Linked DNA regions of Homo sapiens. The protein of the gene in region 1 interacts with the protein of each later gene in a biochemical or structural test. Each region holds a gene or a part of one and is shown in the gene's direction. Other genes may lie near its edges.

What was found.
Region 2: the proteins of LRRK2 (region 1) and VASH2 form a complex in vitro, tested with the Homo sapiens proteins (one large-scale study listed by BioGRID and IntAct).
Region 3: the proteins of LRRK2 (region 1) and C1orf87 form a complex in vitro, tested with the Homo sapiens proteins (one large-scale study listed by BioGRID and IntAct).
Region 4: the proteins of LRRK2 (region 1) and TCEA2 form a complex in vitro, tested with the Homo sapiens proteins (one large-scale study listed by BioGRID and IntAct).
Region 5: of the proteins of LRRK2 (region 1) and CSNK1E, one has a biochemical effect on the other in vitro, tested with the Homo sapiens proteins (one study listed by IntAct).
Region 6: the proteins of LRRK2 (region 1) and SNX9 interact on a protein array, tested with the Homo sapiens proteins (one large-scale study listed by IntAct).
Region 7: the proteins of LRRK2 (region 1) and FCHSD1 form a complex in vitro, tested with the Homo sapiens proteins (one large-scale study listed by BioGRID and IntAct).

The regions. Positions count from the first base shown.
Region 1 is NC_000012.12:40,360,997-40,364,496, forward strand, and holds part of LRRK2 (leucine-rich repeat serine/threonine-protein kinase 2), read left to right. Parts: exon of another isoform or gene 1-2,188; intron 2,189-2,405; coding exon 2,406-2,558; intron 2,559-3,500. UniProt on the Homo sapiens protein: Serine/threonine-protein kinase which phosphorylates a broad range of proteins involved in multiple processes such as neuronal plasticity, innate immunity, autophagy, and vesicle trafficking.
Region 2 is NC_000001.11:212,957,041-212,960,540, forward strand, and holds part of VASH2 (tubulinyl-Tyr carboxypeptidase 2), read left to right. Parts: intron 1-3,500. UniProt on the Homo sapiens protein: Tyrosine carboxypeptidase that removes the C-terminal tyrosine residue of alpha-tubulin, thereby regulating microtubule dynamics and function.
Region 3 is NC_000001.11:59,989,894-59,993,770, reverse strand, and holds the end of C1orf87 (uncharacterized protein C1orf87), read left to right. Parts: intron 1-2,937; coding exon 2,938-3,098; 3' UTR 3,099-3,377; downstream 3,378-3,877.
Region 4 is NC_000020.11:64,066,198-64,069,522, forward strand, and holds part of TCEA2 (transcription elongation factor A protein 2), read left to right. Parts: intron 1-49; exon of another isoform or gene 50-135; intron 136-208; exon of another isoform or gene 209-278; coding exon 279-341; intron 342-717; coding exon 718-823; intron 824-1,849; coding exon 1,850-1,937; intron 1,938-3,163; coding exon 3,164-3,294; intron 3,295-3,325. UniProt on the Homo sapiens protein: Necessary for efficient RNA polymerase II transcription elongation past template-encoded arresting sites.
Region 5 is NC_000022.11:38,296,934-38,300,433, reverse strand, and holds part of CSNK1E (casein kinase I), read left to right. Parts: intron 1-368; coding exon 369-539; intron 540-1,499; coding exon 1,500-1,648; intron 1,649-3,500. Other genes in the region: TPTEP2-CSNK1E (casein kinase I), read left to right, coding at 369-539, 1,500-1,648.
Region 6 is NC_000006.12:157,899,746-157,903,245, forward strand, and holds part of SNX9 (sorting nexin-9), read left to right. Parts: intron 1-2,152; coding exon 2,153-2,300; intron 2,301-3,500. UniProt on the Homo sapiens protein: Involved in endocytosis and intracellular vesicle trafficking, both during interphase and at the end of mitosis. Required for efficient progress through mitosis and cytokinesis. Required for normal formation of the cleavage furrow at the end of mitosis.
Region 7 is NC_000005.10:141,644,919-141,648,418, reverse strand, and holds part of FCHSD1 (F-BAR and double SH3 domains protein 1), read left to right. Parts: intron 1-322; coding exon 323-451; intron 452-898; coding exon 899-1,021; intron 1,022-1,188; coding exon 1,189-1,284; intron 1,285-1,696; coding exon 1,697-1,816; coding exon of another isoform or gene 1,817-1,821; intron 1,822-2,227; coding exon 2,228-2,332; intron 2,333-2,486; coding exon 2,487-2,648; intron 2,649-3,270; coding exon 3,271-3,399; intron 3,400-3,476; coding exon 3,477-3,500.

The DNA.
Region 1 (3,500 bases):
CAATACCACTAAATCTACTGGCTTTCAACATTGGCTGTGCATTTAGAAACCACTAGGTAGCTGAAAATAATATGATACCTGGGCCCTACCTCAGACCAATTAAATCAGACCAGTTAAGCCTGGGATGGGGATCAGATTTTTTTTTTCAGGTTCTCAAGTGATTCTAAAGTATATTTGAGGTTAAGATATACTGCGGAGTGCAGTGTATTATAAGTTCCCATGAATGAGGATTTTTATTTCTGTCTTTACATATTTATTTACTAGTATGTGGTTAACATTTGGATCAACTCATTCTCATTCTGTAATACCCACATTTTAAAAAATGAATGTAAAAATGTCTTTTATTATTTTTATTTTTCAAATTTAATTTTAGATTCCAGGAATACATGTGCAGGTTTGTTACAAAAGTATAGTGCGTGATGCTGAGGTTTGGAATACAACTGAACTCACAACCCAGAAAGTGGGCATAGTGCTTGATAGGTAGTTTTTCATCTTTGCTCCCCTTCCTGTAATTTCCACTTTTAACCCAATTATACAAGCCTGAAAACCTTTAAAAAGAAAGGGCCTCCAGTTTATTTTTTTATTTCATAGCACATTTTATGGGATTATGGATATCAGTTAACTCTTTAAAGTTCCATATAAGATTTGGAGCATAGATGCTTTACTAGAGAGCATCCATAAAGATCAAGCTCTCAAAGATGCTCATCTCCCAAAAGAGATTGGGACCTAGATGCATAAACACTTAAATATAAATATTTGCTCTCTTCTGAACAAGTATCTCCTGTGGCCTTGGTCTCTACCCCACAAAACAGACATCACATCACTAATCAGGGGTTGCCTCATCATCAGTACCCTCATCATCATCAGTACACACCGACTGAGAGGCATGTTGGGTAATGAAAGATGACTGCCTTTGAAGCCGGAAGACTCCATAGGACTTTTGGAGTTCTAGGTCTGCAACATGTTTTTAGTCCTAGGTCGGCAAGCATGATGTTAGTCATAGGACCTTGAGCAAATTATTTAGCATTTGTACATGTTTCTTTCTACTATTAAAAACATTGAGATTTATCATATTTTATGTTTTTTTATTAAGGATCAAGCAAGATAACACACAAAAGTATTTTATAAAATACGGAAATTCCATGCAAAACTTTGTCCTAATTGGAACTATTTTCTATTAAATACAGCAAATATCCAAGAAGGAATTACCTAAAGCGTAGTGGCTCTCTGACAACACATCATATTTTTACCTCCTTTTCCAGAATAGAAAGAAAAGGGGGAGGAAAAAAAATCTTCCTACTCTAGGATATACTAATGATTGTTAAATCTTTATGGTATTTTCATGTTATCTATCTGATTTAAATGCAATTTTGACTATTTTTACATATTCCTCGTTGTTCATTCATACTGTAGTGCCTTCTTCTATTCCCCCACTTAACAGACTGCTTGATTATATCAGAGGTGCTTATCTGTGCAACTGTTTACTGGACGAGGGGTATGTAGAAAATACATTGTCCTCATCCTTATGAAATTACACTCATAATCTAGTGTGAGGGATGCACTAATAAAGACAATTTTATATTTAATAAGGTCTATAATATGACAGTGACACCAGTGGGGAAAAGGGACTGGTTGGTCTATTTTGATAGGTCAGGGAAGAAATCCAGAGGAGCCGACATTTAAGTTCATCCTCAAAGGCCAAGTAGGAGTTTGCCATGCTGATGTGGCCCAAGGTAGCCAATCTGTTTGTGAAATATGTACAATGCCAGATGTCTTAGGTTGAAAGGGAAATATTTTAAGGTGTTCGTAATTTTTCTTTATGTTTAAAAGGGGAAAATGGCAAATATTTTACTTTCTGTTTATGTTTGGATGATGTGGATTTTTGTTTTCTATAATTTGACTGGCTTAACTGCAAAGATATCCCTTGCTTTAAAATTTGAAGACACTGCAACTAAATTTTATTTCAGCATTTTATATTTTATAACTCTAGGTATAAAAGGCTAACACTTAATTTTCTGAGCATTCATGAAACAAAGTTTTGCAAGAACATTCAAAAGTTACAGATATAATATTTCCTTCAGAAATTTAGATATAGTACAAAATTCTACAAAGAGCCACATAGAATTGAAACTAAAAGTAAGACCAAAGTAAACATTGGACATAATCTTTATTTTATTATCACAAGAAATTAATATAAAGTAACCAAAAGTAAGTAAAGTACCAAAGCATGTTATATATTCAATTCAGAATGGTTAGGGAAGAATATGAAATAATTGCAATAGTCTAGCTTGTTTAGTTTTCAAAATAGTGTTTTTACATTAAGAACTAATATAAGGTTGTATTACACGTAGAAATTTTAAGAAGAAAACAAATAGTGATGACTTTCTATTTTTTTTTCTCTGTAGGTTTTCTTATGCAGCTTTCAGTGATTCCAACATCATAACAGTGGTGGTAGACACTGCTCTCTATATTGCTAAGCAAAATAGCCCTGTTGTGGAAGTGTGGGATAAGAAAACTGAAAAACTCTGTGGACTAATAGACTGCGTGCACTTTTTAAGGTAAATTCTGTGGTTTTTAATTTTATTCCCAAAAGAATTATCTTTGCACTTCATGTGTCACAGAGGAAGGATTTTTCTTCCTTTCTGCCTCTGAATAGAGAATTTTTTTAAAATGCAGAAAAAAATTTGTAATGCTTCTCAGCACCATCTTTTCAGATCAAGAAAATTTTGTCTTCAGAACATAAAAGAATAGGCACATAATGTGCATAGTTTTCTCATGGTATTACAAAGAATGTTCTCGAATGAAAATACTACATTATTGAAAATGAGCATATTGGAGTCTCTGCTAGCTTTGACATAGTTCTGTCACAGTGTCAAATATACTATTTATAATTAAATTATGGGCCCCAGGATTATCTGCTCTAAAGAAAAAGAGTCACAAAATAATAGACAAATATGGGGGGAAATGCAATGGACTGACCGAGGCGCTAAGGAGTGGGGATCAAGACCCCAGAATGAGAGCATAGTGCTTAGTCTGATGCAGCCTGTGAGTGACAAATCCATAGCAAGCACATTCTTTCTGTGCTGGTGCTGAGAAACAGGACCATTTTCAAGCTTATTTGCTAGCCACTTTATATTTTTATTTTGTTTTGATTTTACCATATAGATCTATGATACTCTTGAGAACATTTTAGATTACACACTATATCTGTAAAAGGATACTTCAAAGTTTCCTGTCTTAGATTCATCTGACAGTTTTTCTATGGATTGTGAGAAGGGCTCACAGTTTATGTTCAGAAGGGCCAACAGGTCTCCTTGATAAAGGGTTCCTTACTTCCTGAAGTACCAAAACGATTAGGATTCTTTTATTTCTGGACACTTCATTTTTGTCATGAATTAGACTATTCACTGGTTCTGGGAAAAAATTCAGTGGTTTGTATCGATATCTTTTACATGTGAATGACTATAATTTTATGTTCCTTTGTAACATTGAGACTTCAT
Region 2 (3,500 bases), on another chromosome or scaffold:
AGCCCCTGGCAACGACCATTCTACTTTGTGTCTCTATGACTTTGACTACTCTGGGAACCTTATATAAGAGGAATTATTCAATATTTGTCCTTTTGTGATTGGCTTACTTCATTTAGCAAAATGTCATCAAGGTTCATCTATGTGATAGCATGTGTCAAAACGTCTTTCCTTTTAAAGGCTGAATCGTGTTCCACTGTATACCATCGTATATTCCGTGGTGCGCCACATTTTGTTTATTCATTCATCTGTCAATGGACACTTGGGTTGCTTCCACCTTTGGGGGCCATTTTTATTTTCACTGAGGCCTAAAGATTTTTCTTGTCACTTTGCATGAGCTCATAATGAATTAAGGGTATTAACTCATTGTCACCAATGCATCCCCAGGGAGCAGTGAACGTTTTCATCCTCTCCATTAAGGTAAGAAGGTATCTTCATGATGTGAAGCTCCCAAGTTGAGTGTCCAGGGACTCTGCTGCTGCTGTTTCTGTTTTCCAGTTCCAGAAAGTAGGGATCATTCAGGTTTCCCCAGCCTAGACCCCTGACAATATATTGGTGATGAATAATACACAGCTTACACTTTTTTTTTTTTTTTTTTGAGATGGAGTCTTGCTCTGACACCCACGCTGGAGTGCAGTGGCTCAATCACTGCAACCTCCGCCTCTCAGGTTTAAGCAATTCTCCTGCCTCAGCCTGCCAAGTAGCTGGGTTTACAGGCGCCTACCACCATGCCCAGCTGATTTTTGTATTTTTAGTTTCGCCCTGTTGGCCAGGCTGGTCTCAAACTCCCAACCTCAAGTGATCCACTCACCTTGGCCTCCCAAAGTGTTGGGACTACACGTGTGAGCCACGGCACCTGGCCAACACAGCTTACACTTAATGAGCACCATATGCCAAGCCCCAAGTTGCCTACTTTTGCATTAGGTCATGTAATGCTTACAACCAGCTTGGAAGGTTGGAAGTAGGTGATACTATTCCTATTTTATCAGGAAGAAAACAGAGGCTTAGAGAGGTCATGCAGCTTGACCAGGGCCCACAGCTAGTAGGTGGCAGAGCAGGGCTTTGGACCTGGTTGTGTGTGTCTCCTAATGACACTCCGGGAAGCCCACCTGGTTTACAGTCCATGGCCAGTGGGAACGTTGGGAGCCCGAGGCGCTGGTTGGAAGTGGACCCTCCAGGCTGAGCCCAGACAGCTCTCCCAGACATCAGAGTGAGCTGTAGCCTATGACATCATTCCCTCTGTGGTCTCTGCGCCTCCCCGCCACTGCCCTGCCCCCAGCTGGGACTTGGGGAATGTATACGTTTGTCCTCCCGTTGGGCAGGAAGTGTGGCCACAGCTCCTGCACTCTGCTTACAGCCAGGCTGAGGTAACCATGCAGCTGTTTTTAAAAGCCCTTGGGCGCCATCGGGTTGCTATTTTGGGGACCACCTGCCGTCTGCTCCCACCCTGCCATCCAGCTCTTGTGGGCTCTGCTGGGCTTGAGGGGGGTTGAAATAATTTGGTGGTCAGTCCTTCAGCAGACTCTTGAACCAAGTCACTGGTTACAGCAAGGCTCTGGCCTAGGGACACCCCTCTGGGGATCTCTTAGGTGGCTGGTGATTCCTCAGAGCATTTTCCCACACTTACCAGCTTTTCTATTAAAGAGGTTCAGACTGTGCTTTTCTGTGCAGAAATGTTTATGTCTTTTTTTTTTGAGACAGGGTCTTGCTCTGTCACTCAAGCTGGAGTGCGGTGGCCCATTTATGGCTCACTGCAGCCTTGACCCCCTGGGCTCAAGCCATCTTCCTACCTCAGCCTCCTGAGTAGCTGAAACTACAGGCGTGCATCACCATGCTCGGCTAATTTTCTTTCTTTCTTTCTTTCTTTTTTTTTTAGTGATGGGGTCTCGCCATGTTGCCCAGGCTGGTCTCGAACTTCTGGGCTCAAGCGATCTGCCCACCTCGGCCTCCCAAAGCGCTGGGATTACAGGCGTCAGCCACTGCGCCCGACCTGCGTATGTCTTAATAAACTAGAATTCCCCTCCTCTCTGCCTCTGCTCCTGGGCTTTCTCTCTCGTTCGTTCGTACAGGGCCTAAAACTTGAAACACAGGAGGTGCTAAAGACATACTTGTTCACGTCTCCCCTTCTCTCCCCACTTTGTGAAATCTCTGGCACATTTTTTACATAGAACACTTTCTAGTGTATGCTAGGGCAGAAACACAGAATACGCTTTACATTTTGACTTGCTCTGTGTGTGTGTGTGTGTGTCTCTGTGAGTGTCATGGGAGCAAATATTCAATGCCTTGCCCCCTGAAATGACTCTCTCAGACAGCAATGTGATTGATTTGGGTTGACATGTTGTAAACAAAATGGAGCTTGCAGAATAGCTGTGCCTGAGTGTGCACACACACTCACATTCACACGCACATTCACACACACACACACACACACAATACCTTGGCTGTAATGCAGGAAGTGTGATTCTGATGAGTTTCCTTCCAGCTGAGGAGGCAGTTGCTGTGAAGTAGGACATTTCAAAGCCAAGAGAGAATTGAGGCAGTGAGAGGAAAGGAATGTCAAGGAGTACTTGCAGTAAGTGTAGGCAGCGGGGTGGAAGCATGGAAAGACCCCGATGCCCAGGCGGGGGGCAGCGTGCCCTCAGCCTCACACTGGGGCTGGCGCCTGGAGAGTCAGGGAGAGAGCCTCGAACAGCCTTAGGCAGTGTCTGCCTCTGCTGCCTGGCCTGGCTGCACAGGGCCATCCCTGCACCTCCCCAGCGGAGTCCCCTTCCATCAGCGGAGCACCAGATCCCCAGGGCTGCCCTTGCCCTGTTTGCTCTGAGGATGGGCCTCACCTGTCCTCAGGCCCTTTCTGCTTCTCCTTAAGTGGCTTAGCCTGGAGGAGCCTCCTTTCTCCTTCCCAGCAGCAGCACTGCCGGAGCCCCACCCACGTGGGCTGAGATTCTCTGTCACCAAGGACCCCAGGGAGACAGAGGTCAGAAGACCGAGAAACATGTAGGTGAAATAAAGCGAAAAACAAAACCAACCAAGAAAACCCCAAACCGTGCCTGGCTTTTCAGCAGCGACTTGATTGGACGTCCCTGTCTGTTCTTGCTCTTGGCCTTCAGGGTACGGCTGCTCAGAGCCGAGTGGATATCTTAGCTCTAAATTCCTGAGAAGTGGGACCTGCTTCCCCCTTTCCAGTCCTTGCCTGACTTTGGTTCTTTCTCTTCCTGGCAGGGATTAGGACTTCGTCTGCTGTGTTGTAGACATTCAGGGAGTGTTGATTGAGGGGCAGACTAGGAAGTGAGTGTGTTGGTGGAGCTGCTGTGAGGGGTAAAGTGGTAAGATGGCGTGTGAGCCAGAGGAGCTGCACTTGTCTGGGGAGAGTCGAGGCAAGAGGAGGGATCTTCCCTAATCCATCTGGGGGTGGGACTCAGGGAAAGGGACACACTGGGCGTTGCAGGGAGGGTGGTATTGAGATGTGGCACTCGTAGTGCCATGTTGCAATTCGCTAGGGCACC
Region 3 (3,877 bases), on another chromosome or scaffold:
AAAAAAAAAAAAAAGGATTCTTATTATTTTTTTATTTTGGTTCTGGTTAGAAAAGACAGGCTTTCCAACACTAAGATGGATTGTAAGGGCTATTTTATGCAGCTGTTCTGGGCATCCCCTAATGACAGAGTAAATTAGACAGATACAAATTTCATTCAGTGGACTTTTTGTTTGACTCTAGGCATCTTCTATCAATGGTAAAGCTTAGAAGATAGAAAATACTACTGTGATTCCTAGATGTATTTTTTAACATAACTTTTAATTTTTAATTAAAATATAAACTAAATGCTATCTATTTTAATAAGCAATTACATATATACTGTTTATATATTTTTAAAATAATGTTGATGACATAATTATTATAATTATCCTATAGTAAAATTTCACATTATTGAGTGATTACTAGTACTGGATACTGTGTGAACTTAATATTTTATTGATTTTCACACAATTTAATTACCTCTGTTTTCTTTTCCTTCTTTCCCTCTTTCTTTCCTCTTTTGACATTTATTTATGTATTTATGTATTTATGTATTTATTTATTTATTTAAGACAGGGGCCTCACTCCGTTGCCTGGGCTAGAATGCAATGGCATGATCACAACTCACTGCAGCCTCGACCTCCCAGGCTCAAATGATCCTCCCACCTTAGCTGGTGCATGCCACCACACCTCACTCATTTTTTTTCTTACAGTCATAAACTTATTCCAAATCCATGTCTTATATTTCCAGAGGCAGGGTGTGGAGAAATGGCCAGAGGAAGCAAAGCTAGACAGGACTGAGAGCAGCCATCCTATCCAGAAAACTTCGAAGATGCAATTGGCCAACTCAAAGAATGAGGTTTACATAAATGAAAGGACCACTGTTCTAATAAGAGAGACAGACAATAAATAGGCAATGAACAAACCAGAACAGAATAGAAAATGAACACACTGGAATAGAACAGAATAAATTAGGACCCCACCTATTGTGGCCTACTGTTAAAAATAGCGATTAGAGAGTAGTTGAGAAGGTGGCACCATGCACAATAGTACTTGCACATTTAAAAATGAGTAATATTTGGTATCTTAAACTGAGATGATAAGTATCTACCATTGCCCAACTCTAATGGACTAGTAGTGGCTTTCCGCAAAATGACAAGGCACTGCCTCTGGATTCTTTAGGAAGGAATTTCACCATCACTCTTACAGTTCGCACATATGAAGGAGAGTAAAAGAGGCCAGGCACAGTGGCACATGCCTATAATCCCAGCACTTTGAAAGGCATTAGGGGGAGGGTTGCTTGAGCTCAGGAGTTCCAGACCAGTCTGGGCACATAGTGAAACTTCATCACTACAAAAAATAAAAATATTAGCTGAGAGTGGTGGCACATACCTGCAATCCCAGCTACTCATGTGGCTTAGGTGGGAGGATCCCTTGAGCCCAGGAGATCAAGGCTACAGTGAGCCATGATCGTGCCTCTGTACTCCAGCCTAGGCAACAGAGTAAGACCCTGTCTCAAAATAAAAAATAAATAAATAAATAAATAAATAAATAAATAAATAAATAGACCCCTACTTGAAGCAATCTCTTTTCCCTCATTCCATAACGTACTGTAGTGGTTAACCTTAGGCAATCAAGAGACTTGCAGTCTCTAGGCTTTAGTTTTGCCCTCTGTGAAATGGGTTATTGTAAGGATTCAATTAGTTAATATTGGTGAAATGCTTGGAGCAGTTCCTGGAACATAGTAAATTTTATATTTAAATATTGTTTAATTATTATTGTTGTATCCCAGTTAATTTTCTGAATAACTTCTCTCCCCCACGGGACAGAGAACTTCCAGAGGTAGCAGAAAAATTCTCTAAATCTTCTGTATTCCCAAGCACAGTATCTGACACATAGATATTTGCAATTAGGGGCTTATGAGTGAGTTATTGATCTTCAGTGATGCCGTGGTCTACACTGCGACTCCTCCCAACAGCCATCAAAATCTATCCAATCTTAACATGGAAAGCATACTGACATTGGTATTGGCATATATAATGTGTGGGTACCAGAGCATATCCTGCAGTCATACACATTACCACCTCTATTACGCAGATTCAAACTCTGAGCTATGAGAAGTTAGATGCTTCACCTGTGATTGCACAGCAAGCTGGAGGGAGTCACAGGACAGTCAGTCCTCTGCATCTTTGTATTCCGCAACTACAGATTCAACCAACTGCATATCAAAAATATTTTAAAAAATAGAAATAAAATATAATGACACGACAACAAAAAAAAGTACAAATTTTAAAACACAGTATAACAACTATTTGCATTGCAATTGCATTGTATTAGGTGTTACAAGTAATCTAGAGATGGTTTAAAGTACATGGGAGAATGTGTATAGGTTACATGCAAATACTACTCCATTTTATATCGGGGCTTGAGCATCCATGGGTGTAGGTATCACTGTTGGGGAGGGGAATATTATGGACCTAATCCCTGCAGATACCAAAGAACATCTATAAATACATTTAGAGAAATGCATTTTGAAAATAAGCTGTTTAATCCCTGCATGTTTAGGAATGTGTTTGGAGACTTTAACAAGATAAAAAGAACTCAGGACAATTAGAAGTTACTTTTGCTAGGCACCCCCAGTGTTTCAAAAATTGGCCTTACAAGTTTTAAAGTTACAAAGAAAAGCCTAAATTGCTTTAGAATTTATCTATGGATCTTATTGGATCCCATCTTGTTCTCTTTCCCCTGAAATCACCCTCAGATTCTTCCTGAAATCTGTGATGCATACCCACAGCTATAAATATTTTTTAATATGCCACTTGATTTTTAAGAAGCTTAAAATTGCAAAGTATTAGCATTTAGTCTTTACCTGGAAGTCATTCAAGCTAATATATAGTTTTCTCTGTTTTCCCTCCATCCTCTTTAAAAAACCTTCCTCCTACCCAATCCAATCACAGGAGTTCTGGAGAAGGAACGAGCCAGACGCCTCATTCACAACTACAATCTCATTTACAACCTGTCCCTGAGCCCTCAGAAAATCGACCAGGCCTTGCGCAGATTCCGTTCGGGAGAAAATATGCTCTTGGAGCCAGCACTGCGGTACTTAAAGGAGCTATGATAACAAGCCCATATTGTGAGAACAGATGTTTCCCTTATCTCCCTTTTTACCCAGACACATGTTTCTCCCCAGCCTAAGTGTAGTGGCGGAGGCATTGTCAGAGTGGAGGCCGATGCAGCTATTGTAGATGCTTTTGATTTGGACTTAGTTTCTGGCTATGATGCTCACTCATAAGCAGTTCAAAGTGATCAGAGGAAACCTAGTTTTATCTTTTGATGTGGCAAGAACCCAGCTACTTAGAATCTCCTTCTGTTTTAATAAAACTTATTATTAATATTACATGTTTGATTTTTTCCTACATTGCTAATCAAACTATGTTGTTTCAAACCCCACAATTCCACATAGTAAAAAAAACATTAAATGTTGCCACTTCCCCACAGTGCCTGGAACCTAGTAGACCTATGAACATCATTTTTGGATAGGTAAATCATCCCTTCTCCTGGTCATTATTCTAGGAAGGATTTCCATACCATAAGAAAAATAAAAGTATTACCAATACACTATCTTAATCTTAAGCAGTAGAAGAAACATTTCAAGTGAGGTTTTCTGAACAAGTCCAATATTTTCTGCAGTACAAAACTAAACAACATTACACTGTCTCCAGGGGTATTTTCCAAAAGTCCAAGATAGAAGTTTTGAGGAAGGACTCCTTGGGACAAAGCGTTTTGGGAATAGGTAACATCCTTTGCTCTGCCTGGACAGGAAAACCAGGTGGAACTTTCCATCAGCTCCCATAGTTCTTCTGTTCTTAACATCCCCCCTGACTTTGCACCACTCAC
Region 4 (3,325 bases), on another chromosome or scaffold:
GTGAGGTCATTGCCACGGATGTGGGTTACAACTTGGAATGCTTGAGGCTGCAGAACCCCTCCCCTTCTTGACTGAGCAGTAAGGGTTCCCTGCTGTGGTGCAGGAACATGTGGGCAGAGCCCTGGGTGTCTCCAGGTAGAGGAATTTTGGTTTCTTTTTGACCCCAGGTTGAATCTCCAAATTGTCACTGCCTTGTGTTCTCCTCCAGTAGGCAGAAGGAGGTGATATTGTCTGTTGAGATCTAAAGTCCTTTATGAAGGTCCTCCTTCTCCTTCCAGGAGGGAGCCATGGATTTGCTGCGGGAGCTGAAGGCCATGCCTATCACGCTGCACCTGCTCCAGGTAGGTCCCTGCCTGCCCCAGGTCCAGGACAGCTCCTGGGTGCAGCCCAGGGGATGGCAGTTCTGAGGGCACCTGGCAGGGCTTCCCCACCCTCCCCACCAGGCCTTAGTTGGCACAAATGCCTGTTCCTGAGGAGAGGGTCTCTGCCTTTCTCTGGGCTCAGTGGGACAGGGAGGGGAGTCTGAGGATAACCCATCTTGTCCTCCGTGGCTGAGGCTCCTGGGTTCCAAATGGGACAGTCGCCATTGGGAGAGGCCTCTACCTCCCTGGGAGGTCCCGGGCTCCTGTCCTGTGGGGGCCACCAAGGCTCTGCCAGGAGAATCTGACCCCTAGGGTGGGCCCCTGCCTCCCCCAACCCAGACCACTTGCCTCGTAGTCCACCCGAGTCGGGATGTCTGTCAACGCCCTTCGGAAGCAGAGCTCGGATGAGGAGGTCATTGCACTGGCCAAGTCTCTCATCAAGTCCTGGAAGAAGCTCCTGGGTGCGGCTCAGGCGGTGCCCACTGAGTGCTGGGGCAGGGGTCCCAGAAGTGCTGCCTCTTGCTGGTCAGCACAGTGTAGAGTGCTGGCAGTGTCCACCCTGAGCCAGGTCGCTTGGGAGTGGGGCAGTGGCAAACCCAGACCATGAAGCGCCCAGCTTGGGGCTGGCAGTGGATCAGTGGGTGCCTGTCAGCATTGGCTGGGAGGTGTGGCCTAGGAGGCCAGGGTGTGTGCTGGGGGCAGGGTTCCAGGTAGAACAAGGAGAGAAGAGAGTTGAGGCCAGGACTTGAACTGACAGCACTGAGAGACTGGGGTGAGTTGGGAGGTCACACAGAGGGGAAGGTCATGGCCAGGAGGCTGGGAAGTGCCGGGAGAGGGGAAGCGGGAGGGAGAAGGCAGGGCCACCTCAGCTACTCAGAGGGAACAGAGGGGCAGCCCCCTGCCAGGGAAGGGAAGGGCTGGGCTGGGCTGGGCTGGACTGAAGGCTGCCTCTTCCTGGAGACAGTGGGGTGACTGGGGTTGCAAAGATGCTGCTGTCTGGGATGGAGGCAACCCTCCTAGCTCTGTCCACACCCTTGTGAAACAGTCTCTCTCCAGCCCTGTGTGGCCCTCAGGCTGTGCATGGCACAAGCATGTCCTGGTCCCCAGCCCTTGGGCCTGGCTCTGGGCTTTCAGGAAGAGCCTTCTTGGGGACATGCTTGGTCTCTCTGGCCAGGACAGGCAGGAGGGTGGGCCCCAGAGAGGCCCCAGAGGTGGCCTTTGTGAGTGGGTGCTTGTACGGGAAAGGGTTCTGGGGAGGCAGCCTCAGGACTGCAGAGATGGACAGGTTGCTGGGGAGGGTGAGGACCTGTTCACAGAGGCTGGGCAGCCTCCTGGCCCCTGGCTCCCCTGGCTGGGTGAGGGGCTGGGGGCGGGGGCTGGGGCTGGGGCCGTGTTGGTGGTCGGGCTGAGGCTGTACCTTGGTGGTGGTCTGTGCCCCTCCCTCCTCTGCCTCCCCTTGATCAGCCCATCCCCGATCTTTCCTGCAGATGCTTCCGATGCCAAAGCCAGGGAGCGGGGGAGGGGCATGCCTCTGCCCACGTCCTCGAGGGATGCCTCAGAGGCCCCGGATCCCAGGTAGCACACCTGGAAGGCAGGTGCACACACTTCTGCTTCCCAGCCTGTTTCCTTGCCAGAGAAAGGGTGCCAGTCTCCATGTGCCTAGGCACTGCTTTGAGGCTGCACACAGAGTCGGTCAGCCTCATGCTGGACACCAGCCTTGTGGTGTGTCCCGCCTGCACTGACCACTTGAGATGTGGGTCTGTGTCCACCTGGCTGTCAGCCAGCCATCCTGGCCTCTTCCTCTGCCAAGAGCTGCTGTATACCCTGAGTGGGCCTGTGGGAGCCCCCTGGCCTCTTCCCCCAAGGCCCCCTGCTGGGTCTGGTTCTTGCTGGCCCACTCTGGCTTCCCCCTCAGCCTCACTCAACGACGGTCCCTCCTTCCTGCAAAATTCTGCCCAGAACCAAAGGCGGGGGCCAACTCCCCTCCTGCCCTGCATGTGCACGTGTGGTCACTGCTGCCAGGGGGTGATAAGGGCTCTGTGGCCTGCAGCTGGGAGCTGGGGGTGCTTATTGTGGCAGGCTATAGCCGAGAGATGGCTTTGCCCTTGACCACACTGGGTTGTGGTGACTGGGCCACCAGGAGCTCAGGGACACCTTTGCAAGTTGATTTTCCTCCAGGAAGCTGCCTGCTTCTGCCAACTTCCACAGAGGGGATGAGGGGAGGGCTAGGTGGATGCAGCCTGGTCGTTGGGCAGCCCCATGTTGGGGTCCAGCCCTGAGGGGCATCCTTCTCCCATTCTGTACGTGCCCAGGGGTGTCGTCTGTGACAGCAGAACCTGGCCTTGGGCGGCCCCGCCTTGTCTCCCCCCAGACAGCTGTGGGTCTCTCCCTCTCCCTGACCAGGCAGCAGCTGCAGCTGCCCTCAGCAGAGTATTTGTGTTGCGGCCCAGTGGGTGGGCACCCCAGAGGTGGCAGGAACTGCCAGGTTCATTCTGATCGACTGGTAATGCTGCCCAGATGCTGACTGCTGGGTCTGGGATCCTGTTCCCACCTGGAGAGTACACCCTGACCCACTGGGGACCTCATGGCCCTCTCCCTCCTGGCTGCTGGGCACACCCCATGGACATCTGGGCTGGACTCAAGATAGGCAGGGCCACAGGCCACTGTTGGACTCTGGCAGAGTAGAACAAGCAGGGGTTGGTGGGGGATTATGCTGTGGCACCTGCTGCTTCTAGGACCAGTGTCTCGCTGGGGTGCCTGCAGCCTTGAGTCTGAACCCAGCTGGCCCTGGCTCTCTGCAGCCGCAAGAGGCCGGAGCTGCCCAGGGCACCGTCGACTCCGAGGATCACCACATTTCCTCCGGTGCCTGTCACCTGTGATGCCGTGCGCAACAAGTGCCGCGAGATGCTGACCGCTGCCCTGCAGACGGACCGTGAGTGCGGCCGGCCCTGGCTCCTGACACC
Region 5 (3,500 bases), on another chromosome or scaffold:
CTTAAGGTCATGCAGCTTAGCTAATGCCAAAGCTGGACTTGACCCCGGCCCTGTCTGATGCTGAAGCTTGTGACCTCTCCACGGGGTGGGCCAGGCAAGGGGGCAGTAGGTGCCCTCTCATAGTCATTGAATGATTAAGTGCCTGAACTGGAAAAACTAGGCCCAAATTAAGTTGAGAAGGCCCTGCCTCAGGCTTCTTCTCTGTAGGAGGAGGATAATAGCAGTGCCTGTTTAAAATGCGTGCAGTGAGCAACATCCGACGTGGGGGCAGGAGGGTCCTGGTGCATTGTGAGGAGCATGACCCAGAGGATGAGTTAGGGGCCTGAGTGGACCCCTGTCCCTCACCTAGTCTTTGACTCTCTGTGCAGAGCAAAGCCGTCGAGATGACCTGGAGAGCCTGGGCTACGTGCTCATGTACTTCAACCTGGGCTCCCTGCCCTGGCAGGGGCTCAAAGCAGCCACCAAGCGCCAGAAGTATGAACGGATCAGCGAGAAGAAGATGTCAACGCCCATCGAGGTCCTCTGCAAAGGCTATCCCTGTGAGTAGCCCAGTGGGAGGGGACATGCCTGGGGGCCCCTGAGGCACTGTCTAAGGGAAAGGTGAGGCCATACAAAGCCCACGCTGGGGCTAGGCGCGGTGGTTCACGCCTGCAGTCCTGGCACTTTGGGAGGCCAAGGCAGGTGGATCATGAGGTCAGGAGGTCGAGACCAGCCTGAGTAACATGGTGAAACCCTGTCTCTACTAAAAATACAAAAATTAGCCCCACCTGTAATCCCAGCTACTCAGGAGGCTGAGGCAGGAGAATTGCTTGAACCTGGGAAGCGGAGGTTGCAGTGAGCCGAGATTGCACCATTGCACTCCAGTCTGGGTGACAGAGCGAGACATCATCTCAAAAACAACAACAACAAAGCCCACACTGGGCTGCCCCACAGCCCTTGGCACCTGAGCAGTAATCCCTGGCTCTTTGCCACTCCTTGGCACAGCCAGAAGGCCCGGTTTCCCTGTCCTGGCTGTTACACCTGTTGCTTCCCGGCCTACATTCCTGCCTCATCTCCCAAGGGCCCTCTCCCCAGTGTTTTTGAGGAGGAATTGGAAGTTTTCCTCTTCTTGCTTAGGTTGTGTTAGAAGGTCCCGTCAGGCTCTTGCAGTCCTTTGAATTTATGGCAACGATTGATCTGTGGGCCCCAGGGTGCTTGGCGAGGGCAGCGGAAGAGCTGTGGGCATGGATGGCTCCTGGATCCGGCTACCTGGCAGAGGCTCCTGGCCACTGTTCGCAGGTCTTCCCTTGCTCTGAAAGCAGCAGAGGCTCTGCTCACGGGCAGGCTAGGCTTTCATCACAGTAGGATAGGGAAGGCCATGGCTCTGTTGCCTCCTTTTCTTGCCTCTCACAGATTGGAAGTATCTAGGGACAGTGGGTGGCTAGGACAGTGCTGGCTGCAGGGGGTCTGGGAGCGTGGGCCTCACAGTGGCCTTCTCTATCCTCTGCAACACCCTCCAGCCGAATTCTCAACATACCTCAACTTCTGCCGCTCCCTGCGGTTTGACGACAAGCCCGACTACTCTTACCTACGTCAGCTCTTCCGCAACCTCTTCCACCGGCAGGGCTTCTCCTATGACTACGTCTTTGACTGGAACATGCTGAAATTCGTGAGTCACCTGGAGGCCAAGGCGGGCTTGGGGGACTGGATGGGGAAGGCCCTGACTCAGAGGGCCAGAGTGAGCTGGTGGCGGGAGGGGCTCCCGACAGACGGGAGGTACGAGCTGGACAGTGTGGTTGACCTCACTGGGGTCCCAGAGCCCTCCAGCCTCATCCGTGCTGACAGCTTGTGCCACCATGGGCAGCAGGGCCCAGGCAGGGCGCTGTCTCCCGTCGGAACAAGGAGGATCTGGCTTCACCTGGGGTCCCTCCTGGGTGCCCGCAGCAGGGCATGGGTGGTGCTGGCGGCGCCCCCTGCTGCCCTGATTGCTGCCTACACCGTCCTGCTGCTCCTGTTCTGCACATCCCAGGTGGCTACCTGCACCATGGCCCCTCGGGCCAGCCTGGACCCAGTCATGGTGCTTGCTTTCTTCTTGGTCATGGGCCCCTGGGTCTGGCTAGGCAGTTGTTCTGTTTCCCTCTTTTAAGAGTCCCAGGGGTGGGGTTGGGTGGGGAGCAGCATTGGCCGGCCGTACCCAGAGCTCTGGAATCTGTGAAATTGTATGTCTTGTTTCACATCTCTTCTGGAAAAGGGGGCTTCCTCGAGCCAGGCTCAGCCCCGTGACAGCCCCATGACAGCGAAGGGACCTTTCTGTCCCCGCCCCTGTCCCTGTGCTGGGCCCACGTACTCACCCACGTACTGGTAAGGATCCTCTGAGGTCTGGCTTTTCCAAAATTTGCCACTTGACCAGTGAGCGCAAGAGGCTGAGCCTCAGCTGTGCTTTTTGTCCCTTTCAGGTGCCCGGCTCCCCTGGGCACCCAGAGCCCCCCAGATAGGCCGGTGGAGGAGGTGGAGGAGCTGTCCCCCCAAAACTACTGGCCTGTGGTCTGGACTCCAGGGCCCCATTTCTGATGTCGCCAGGTGTGCCTGAGCCCATCGGGGCCAGGCCTGAGGAAGTGTTTCTTGGGAGGATGGGATGACCCCCTGTTCCCAAGAGATGGCAGCACAGTGGAGGCCATGGTGGAAAAGGCCCTGCCATGGGGTCCTTGAGGGCCAGGACAGCCTGAGGGAGGGATGGTGGCCACTGCCCACAAGGGGCCTGGTGGGAACGGGTCCCAGGACAGACTCATAGCTAGACCCCGTTGGCGGCCTCTGTGTTGAACCAGAACTCATTAAACACCTCCTCTTGCTTCATCCTGGTGTGCCTCTTTCATGGCAGGGCCCTCAGCCACCCTGCTAGATGGTTAGGACCAAGGCTCTGTTCTCCTGGAAGCCAAGGTCGGCACATTGGTCTTGGGCTTCTCTTCTCTCTGGGTTTCTTGTTCACTAAGGAGTAACACAGAGGTCAGGCAGAGAATGGGGGTCTCGCAGGCTAGGGACCTCAGGGAGAGGCCTCTGTTGCCCTTTTCAGCAAGGCTGGAAATGGGATATGGGCAGGGGACGTCTTCTCTGACTTCACCCTAGACCTTCTGGCTCCAAATGGGGCCCATGGCCTTGAGCACCTGGGACCAGCTCTTTCCACCACAGGGCATTGGGCACTGGGCACTTTCTTATCGAGATAGTCACTCCCACGTCTGGTTCGTGATGGGCTTGGCCCTCCAGCTCAGCACAACTGCAAGAATGGATTTTGTATTCTCTAGACGGACACTGTCCAAGATGGTAGCCATTGGCCACATGCGACACATTTTTAATGAATTAAAATTAATCAAGACTGGAAATGTCGGCCAGGCCTGGTGGCTCATGCCTGTAATCCCAGCACTTTGGGAGGCCATAGAGGGCGGATGACTTGAGGTCAGGAGTTTAAGACCAGCCTGGCCAACATGGTGAAACCCATTTCTACTAAAAACACAAAAATTAGCTGG
Region 6 (3,500 bases), on another chromosome or scaffold:
CCTGGCCAACAAAGCGAGGCTCCGTCTCAAAAAAAAAATTATCTATATTTGAGGTATACAGCGTGATGTTGTAATATACATGTATATACTGAAATCATTACTACAGCCAAGCGCTTAACATATCCCTCACCTCACATGATTACCTAAGTGTGTGTGTGTGCGCGTGTATATGTGCAAGTGCGTGCCTGTGGGTGTGTGTGTGGTAAGAGCACCTAAAATCTCCCTCAGCAGGTTTCCCAAATATAATGCAATATCATTAACTGTAGTCCTCATGCTGTACATGAGATCTCTAGACTTATCCTACATGACTGCAACTTTGTACCTTTGACCTGCATCTCCCTAGTTCCCCGTCTCCCTGCCCCTGGTAACCACCTTTCTACTTTCTGCTTCTATAAGTTTTTTAGATTTTTTTAAAGACCTGTTAAAAGTTCCACATGTAAATAAGATCCATGTGGTATTTTTCTTTGTGTGTGATGTTGAGTGCATTTTCATATACCTCTTGGCCATTTTTTGGTCTTCTTTGGAAAAATGTCAATTTGGGTCCTTTGTCCATTTTTTAATTGAGCTTTTTTTATTTGCTATTGAATTGTGCGAGTTCATTATATGTTTTGAATATTAACAGGTTATCAGATACATGGCTCGCAAATATTTTCTCCCAGCCTATTGCGGGATCTGGCCAGCAGCCCGCAATGCAACGGGGTTCTCTTTGTGTTCCCAGGCGGATCGGCCCGTTGAGAAATAATAGACACACACAAGATAGCGAAAGCTGGGTCCGGGGGGGTCACTGCCTTCTGGTCCTGCAGTGCCAACAATGCACTGGATATACCAGCATTTATTATTAAGTTTAGTGAGGGCGGGGGTAGGTTAGTGAGGGATTTAGGGTCATTTGATTATGAGGTGAGATGGTCACATGGGGATGAAGTAATTCTTTAACATAACATCTGTATGCAGAAGTACAGTATACAGAGATAAGAATTTACAATATAGTGTATGCATCAGTAATTTCTGACAGAGCCTTAAAACAGAAACACAGTCTTTCCATAACCTATGATTAGCAAGATATTAATCAGCAGTAACAGTTGCAGCAAAAGCTGGTTACAAACAATCCGTAGAAACAGGACGTGAAGCTAGACAACCTGTTAGACCAGAAATTCTCAGAAGGGAGTATGCCTTAACCCTAAAGAGGCCCAGAAGAGCCCTGGCAAGATGAGGGCGTTTATAGCCCTATCTTATCCATATGGACGGTGCCCCCATGTGTCTGTTTATAGGCTCTTTACAAGGGTCACTTTCCATTCCCAGAGCTATGAATATCTGCTTTTCTGGGATAGGAATCTTGGTGATGTGAAACCTCCCTGACTGCACATCCATTCATAGGCTCTCTGCAGGGGGAAGCACATCACATGCTGTTGGCTCATTCTGGCAGTCCCACCTGGCACTGTCTTTACACAATCCTGCATGCAATTTTGTATTTACAATAATCAGGAGCATTTCATCTTTTATTCCATAGCAATAGTTTCAGGGGGTCTCCCTACACCAGCCCATAGGCTACCTTTTCATTTTGATTGTTTCCTTTGCTGTTCAGAAGCTTTTTAGTTCCATGTAGTCCCGCCTGTTATTTTTGACTTTGTTCCCTGTGCTTTTGGTGTAATACTCAAAAAAACATTTGCCAAGGCCAGCGCCAAGGAGCTTTTCCCCTGTGTTTCCTTCTAGGAGTTGTGTGGTTTCAGGTCTTCCATTTAGGTCTGTAATCTATTTTAAGTTGATTTTTGTGTGTGGTGTAAGACAAGGTCCAGTTTTATTCTTTTGCATGTAGATACCTGGTTTTCCCAGCACGACTTACTAAAGAGACTGCCCTTTCTCCACTGTGTCATCTCGGTGCCCGTGTCAAAAATTTAAAAGTAATCTGATAGCCCTCTTTAAGTTGCTTCTGATTTGTCTTTTGCACTAAAAGAATCTGTAATTCAAGGCTTAAAATTGACTACACAGCCTTTACTCTTAACATCCATATTATACTCCTATACTATACCCTTTTCTCCATCAAAAAAAAATTGATTTGCCCAGTAGGTAGTTACTGTCAGAAAATTAAGTAATTTCATTTTTATTTTGGTCTTTTTTTTTTTTTTAACTGATGATCTTCCATTTTCACCTCTAGCAACTGGTGATGATGATGACTGGGATGAAGACTGGGATGGGCCCAAATCCTCTTCCTACTTTAAGGATTCAGAGTCAGCTGATGCAGGCGGCGCTCAGCGAGGAAACAGTCGTGCTAGTTCCTCATCCATGAAAATTCCCCTTAACAAGTAAGTTTAAAGGGGAGCCAGGGAACCAGGGCCGTGGTAGAAGTATACATTAATACAAAGTATATACCCTACCAAGAGGCAGCTGGCCTTTTCCCTTTCCAGTGATCTCCTAAGTTTTGGATATGATTCAGTTATTTTTATTTGGATCTTAACTGAGAAGCTTACTTAAAAAAAAAAAAGGATTTTTGATTTACAAGGTTAATAAGTGAAATATTTATTTTATTTAATGATTTCCCAAACTGTTTTCATTACTTCTAGCTTTATCAATTTATGACATATTAAGGTTTCATTGCTAATGTCACAGGAAAGCTAAAAAGAATAATAATAACAACTCTCTTTTAAATGTTTTACTGTTTTGTTAATCACTTGCCATGTGCCAGGCATTGTGCAGAGAGGTTTGTATCATTCGCATGTAGCCCTCATATCCCTTTGTGGTACATAAAACCCCTGTTTTACTGCAGGCAAACTGATGCCCAGAGAGACGCATCGAGTGTTCCAGTCAGGAAGCCAGGCCCTCAGGCGCCAAAGCACGTGTTTCAGCTCCTGTGCCTAAAAACGTGGTCCGGAGCTTTGTGTTAGCTTAGGTTTCTCTTAGATTTAAAACAAAAAAAAAAGTGTTGTGTTTTATTTTTTTGTTTTGAGACAGGCGTCTCGCTCTGTCACCCAGGCTGAAGTGCAGTGGTGCGATCTTGGTTCACTGCAACCCCAACGTCCCGGGTTCAAGCAATTCTCGTGCCTCAGCCACCTGAGTAGCTGGGATTACAAACATGTGCCACCGCGCCCAGCTAATTTTTGTATTTTTAGTAGAGACGAGGTTTTACCACGTTGGCCAGGCTGGTCTCAAGCTCCTGGTCTCAAGTGATCCGCCCGCCTCTACCTCCCAAAGTGCTGGGATTACAGGCTTGAGCCACCACACCTAGCCAAAAAAAAAAAGTTTTTAACAGTACTTGTAGATACCCTACTTAACAGGAAAGCATGTGGGCACCAGTGACCACTGTAGGATTCTTTGGAGAGACCTAAATAAGGCTGTAGTCTATGCCAGTGTAGCTTGAAGGAGATATATTAGTAATTTATGACTTCCATCAGAATTTTCAAGTACTCCTTCCAGCAGTTATGTTTAGTTTATTTTTTGAAATTACTAATACTTTTTCCCAATATTCCAATTCCATGATTCAAGGCAGATATCAAAGAATGTTAATC
Region 7 (3,500 bases), on another chromosome or scaffold:
AACTGAGAGAGGGCCAGTATGGCTGGAGTACTGTGAGCAAGGGAACAAGCGCTTGAAAAGAGGTCAGAGAGATTGCGGGGGCCAGCTCATATTGAACGTGGTGGACCATGGTAAGGAACAGTGGATTTTATTTTAAATGCGTGCAGAAGGCACTAGAAGATTTTGAGCAGGAGTTGTGTGTATGCAACATTTTTAGTGTAGTGCCAGGCACATAGTAAGCACTCAATAATGTGAGAATCCATTCTGGATCTGGCTTCTCAATTGGTCTTGGAAGGACTCTGGGGGTCTAGGGCTTCCTATTGACATCAGTTTACCCTCCTAGCTGTCCGCCCAGTCAGCCCAGTACTCCCAGCAGCTGCAAGCAGCCCGCAATGAGTACCTGCTTAACTTGGTGGCTACCAATGCCCACCTCGACCATTACTACCAGGAGGAACTGCCAGCTCTGCTCAAGGCCAGTTTTAACCCAGACACCCCTATCCCTCAGCAGGGAGGGAAAGGAGGACCTCCCCCTGCTTCTTGATCCCCATGACAGTGGGTGGTGCAGGGGATCTTGTCTGTTTAGAGTGAGTAGATGATACATACATGCACTCTGGTTCTGCTCCTAGCTGGCTGCATGGCATTGTACAGTACACTTAAACTCTTCCGAACCCCAGATTCCTCATCAGGGATAACCCTTTCTCTGCCTATCTTATAGCACTAGTGGGGCTCAAAGGAGAGAATGGATGTGAACGTGTTTTAAACTTCTAAGTGCTCTGCACACGAGGGCCTTTCTCATGAAGAATGTCTTCTTCTCTCCTTCCTATACCTCATGCCCATCACCTGTCAAATCTGGAACGAGCCTATTTTACAGTAGAGGTCTGGGGGAAGGGTGGTGTCAGTATCTTGGGGTTCTCTCTAGGCCCTGGTCAGTGAGCTGTCAGAGCACTTGAGGGACCCCCTGACCTCCCTGAGCCACACTGAGCTGGAAGCCGCAGAGGTCATCCTGGAGCATGCCCACCGCGGGGAGCAGACAACCTCCCAGGTGAGGGCTGTGGCCTCTAAGAGCTTCCCCGGGGATCCTTTTTACCCTTCCCTCCCAATGCAGCCCTCTTTGCTTCACACATTGTCCTTTTTCTTCCAAGAAGTGCTAGGGACAGGGTTGGAGAGTGAGTCAGTGAATGAGTGACTTTGACTTTTCCCAACCCCTAGGTAAGCTGGGAGCAAGACCTGAAGCTGTTTCTTCAGGAGCCTGGTGTATTTTCCCCCACCCCACCTCAGCAGTTTCAGCCAGCAGGGACTGATCAGGTGAGATCTTCCTGCTTGTTGGAACCAGGCCACATATAAAGGCGATTATGATTTAGGCCTCCTCCATTATCTTTGTTTTGTGTTAACTTAGTGAGTGTACACCGTGGAGAGGGGGTTTCAGAACTCCAGCTCACCTCCCTCCCAACAGGACACACACAAAAAAACACACCTCAGTCCACCTTTCAGTCACTTGACTGCGCCATCCTTTTCATTCTACCTCTGTCCCTTGACCTGGATCCCATTTCTGAAGCTCTGTATCTCTGTGTCCACATTACCTGTGTCCATGACTGTAGGCATGTGCCCCTTTCTCTTTGTCCTTGTCCTTGGAGGTCAAGATAGAGTGGAAAAAGGAGGGAACTGGAGAGAAGGAGCAGCCTCAGGTCCTCCTCACAGCACCCCCTGACCCATTCAGGTGTGTGTCCTGGAGTGGGGAGCAGAAGGCGTGGCTGGCAAGAGTGGCCTGGAGAAAGAGGTTCAGCGCTTGACCAGCCGAGCTGCCCGTGACTACAAGATCCAGAACCATGGGCATCGGGTGAGGTGGGGGGGCACAGGTGTCATGTGCACCTTCTTGTCTCAGCAAGAAGAGCTGAGAGAGGGGATCTTGGAGCCATTGAGGGTGTCATGGAGCTACAGAGGGGAGGGAAAGGTATTTTAAGGTAACAGTGTGGCACAATAGTTAAGAGCACAGTTTTTGGAGCTAGACCGACATAGGTTCAAATTCTCTTCTGTTGCTTCCTAGTTCTGTAGCCCCAGGTAAGGGAGTGACTTAACCTCTCTGGACTTCAATTTCCTCATCACTAAAGTAGGGCCAATAATAGCACCCACCTCATAGGGAAGATTAAATGACATAATGTATGTGATGCAACTAGCAAAGTACCAGTCCCATAGTAAGTCATGCCCCACAGTATTTCCACCCACCCCTGTTCTCTGCCTTCCCAACCAGGTACTGCAACGACTGGAGCAGAGGCGGCAGCAGGCTTCAGAGCGGGAGGCTCCAAGCATAGAACAGAGGTTACAGGAAGTGCGAGAGAGCATCCGCCGGGCACAGGTGAGGCACACCCCTGAGGTTAGAGATCCCACCTTCTCAGGCAAGCCCCACTCCCTCTACTCCTCTTTCTGATGGTGGGAGGAAGGAAGGGAGAAGCAGAGAGTAAACACTGCCGTCAGCCAGGTTCCACTAACTTACTTCCTCCCCATGGCAGGTGAGCCAGGTGAAGGGGGCTGCCCGGCTGGCCCTGCTGCAGGGGGCTGGCTTAGATGTGGAGCGCTGGCTGAAGCCAGCCATGACCCAGGCCCAGGATGAGGTGGAGCAGGAGCGGCGGCTCAGTGAGGCTCGGCTGTCCCAGAGGGACCTCTCTCCAACCGTGAGCTCCTCCCCCAACACTACCCATCCTTACTTAGAAGGGAAAAACTCCAGTGGAAGGCAAACCCTATAAAACTGGAATCACAGTTGTGCCTAACTCAAAGGGTTATTACGAGGCTTAAGTGAAATCATCATATATCATTCTTTGCATAATTTCTGGCATAGAGTCCTCAGTACATTTTTATTATGAGCATAATAGAATGATTAAGAAGTAGGGTTCTGGGGCAGTCTGTAAGGGCTTTGAGTACCAGCCACTCCACTTATGAGCTGTGCAATCTCGAAAAGTGACTTAACCTTTCTGAACCCCAGTTTCCTTGTAAATAAAGTGAGGTTAATAGTTGTGCAAAACTATTAACACTGGGTCATTATGAAGATTAAATGAGACAATATACACAAGATACTTTGCATTGTACCTGGCACATAGTATGCACTCAATTACTGTAACTCTATTACTGTTAGTATTATCCTGCTCTGTGGTGACTGTGGTTGTGTACATGGTGAGTGGATGGGTGCACCTGCCTTGGAGGATCCATGGTGTCCTTTAGAGGAAAGATGGAAGAGTGGGAGATAGAACCAGTGCTTGAGAGTGGGCCCCATATGAGGTCTGTTCTTTGCCCCTCTAGGCTGAGGATGCTGAGCTTTCTGACTTTGAGGAATGTGAGGAGACGGGAGAGCTCTTTGAGGAGCCTGCCCCCCAAGCCCTGGCCACGAGGGCCCTCCCCTGCCCTGCACACGTGGTATTTCGCTATCAGGTATGAATGGGGGTGGGGACCTCTGATGGGCAAGGGTGGGGGACAGCCAAGTCCTGAATCCTTCGTGTGTGGCCCAGGCAGGGCGTGAGGATGAGCTGACA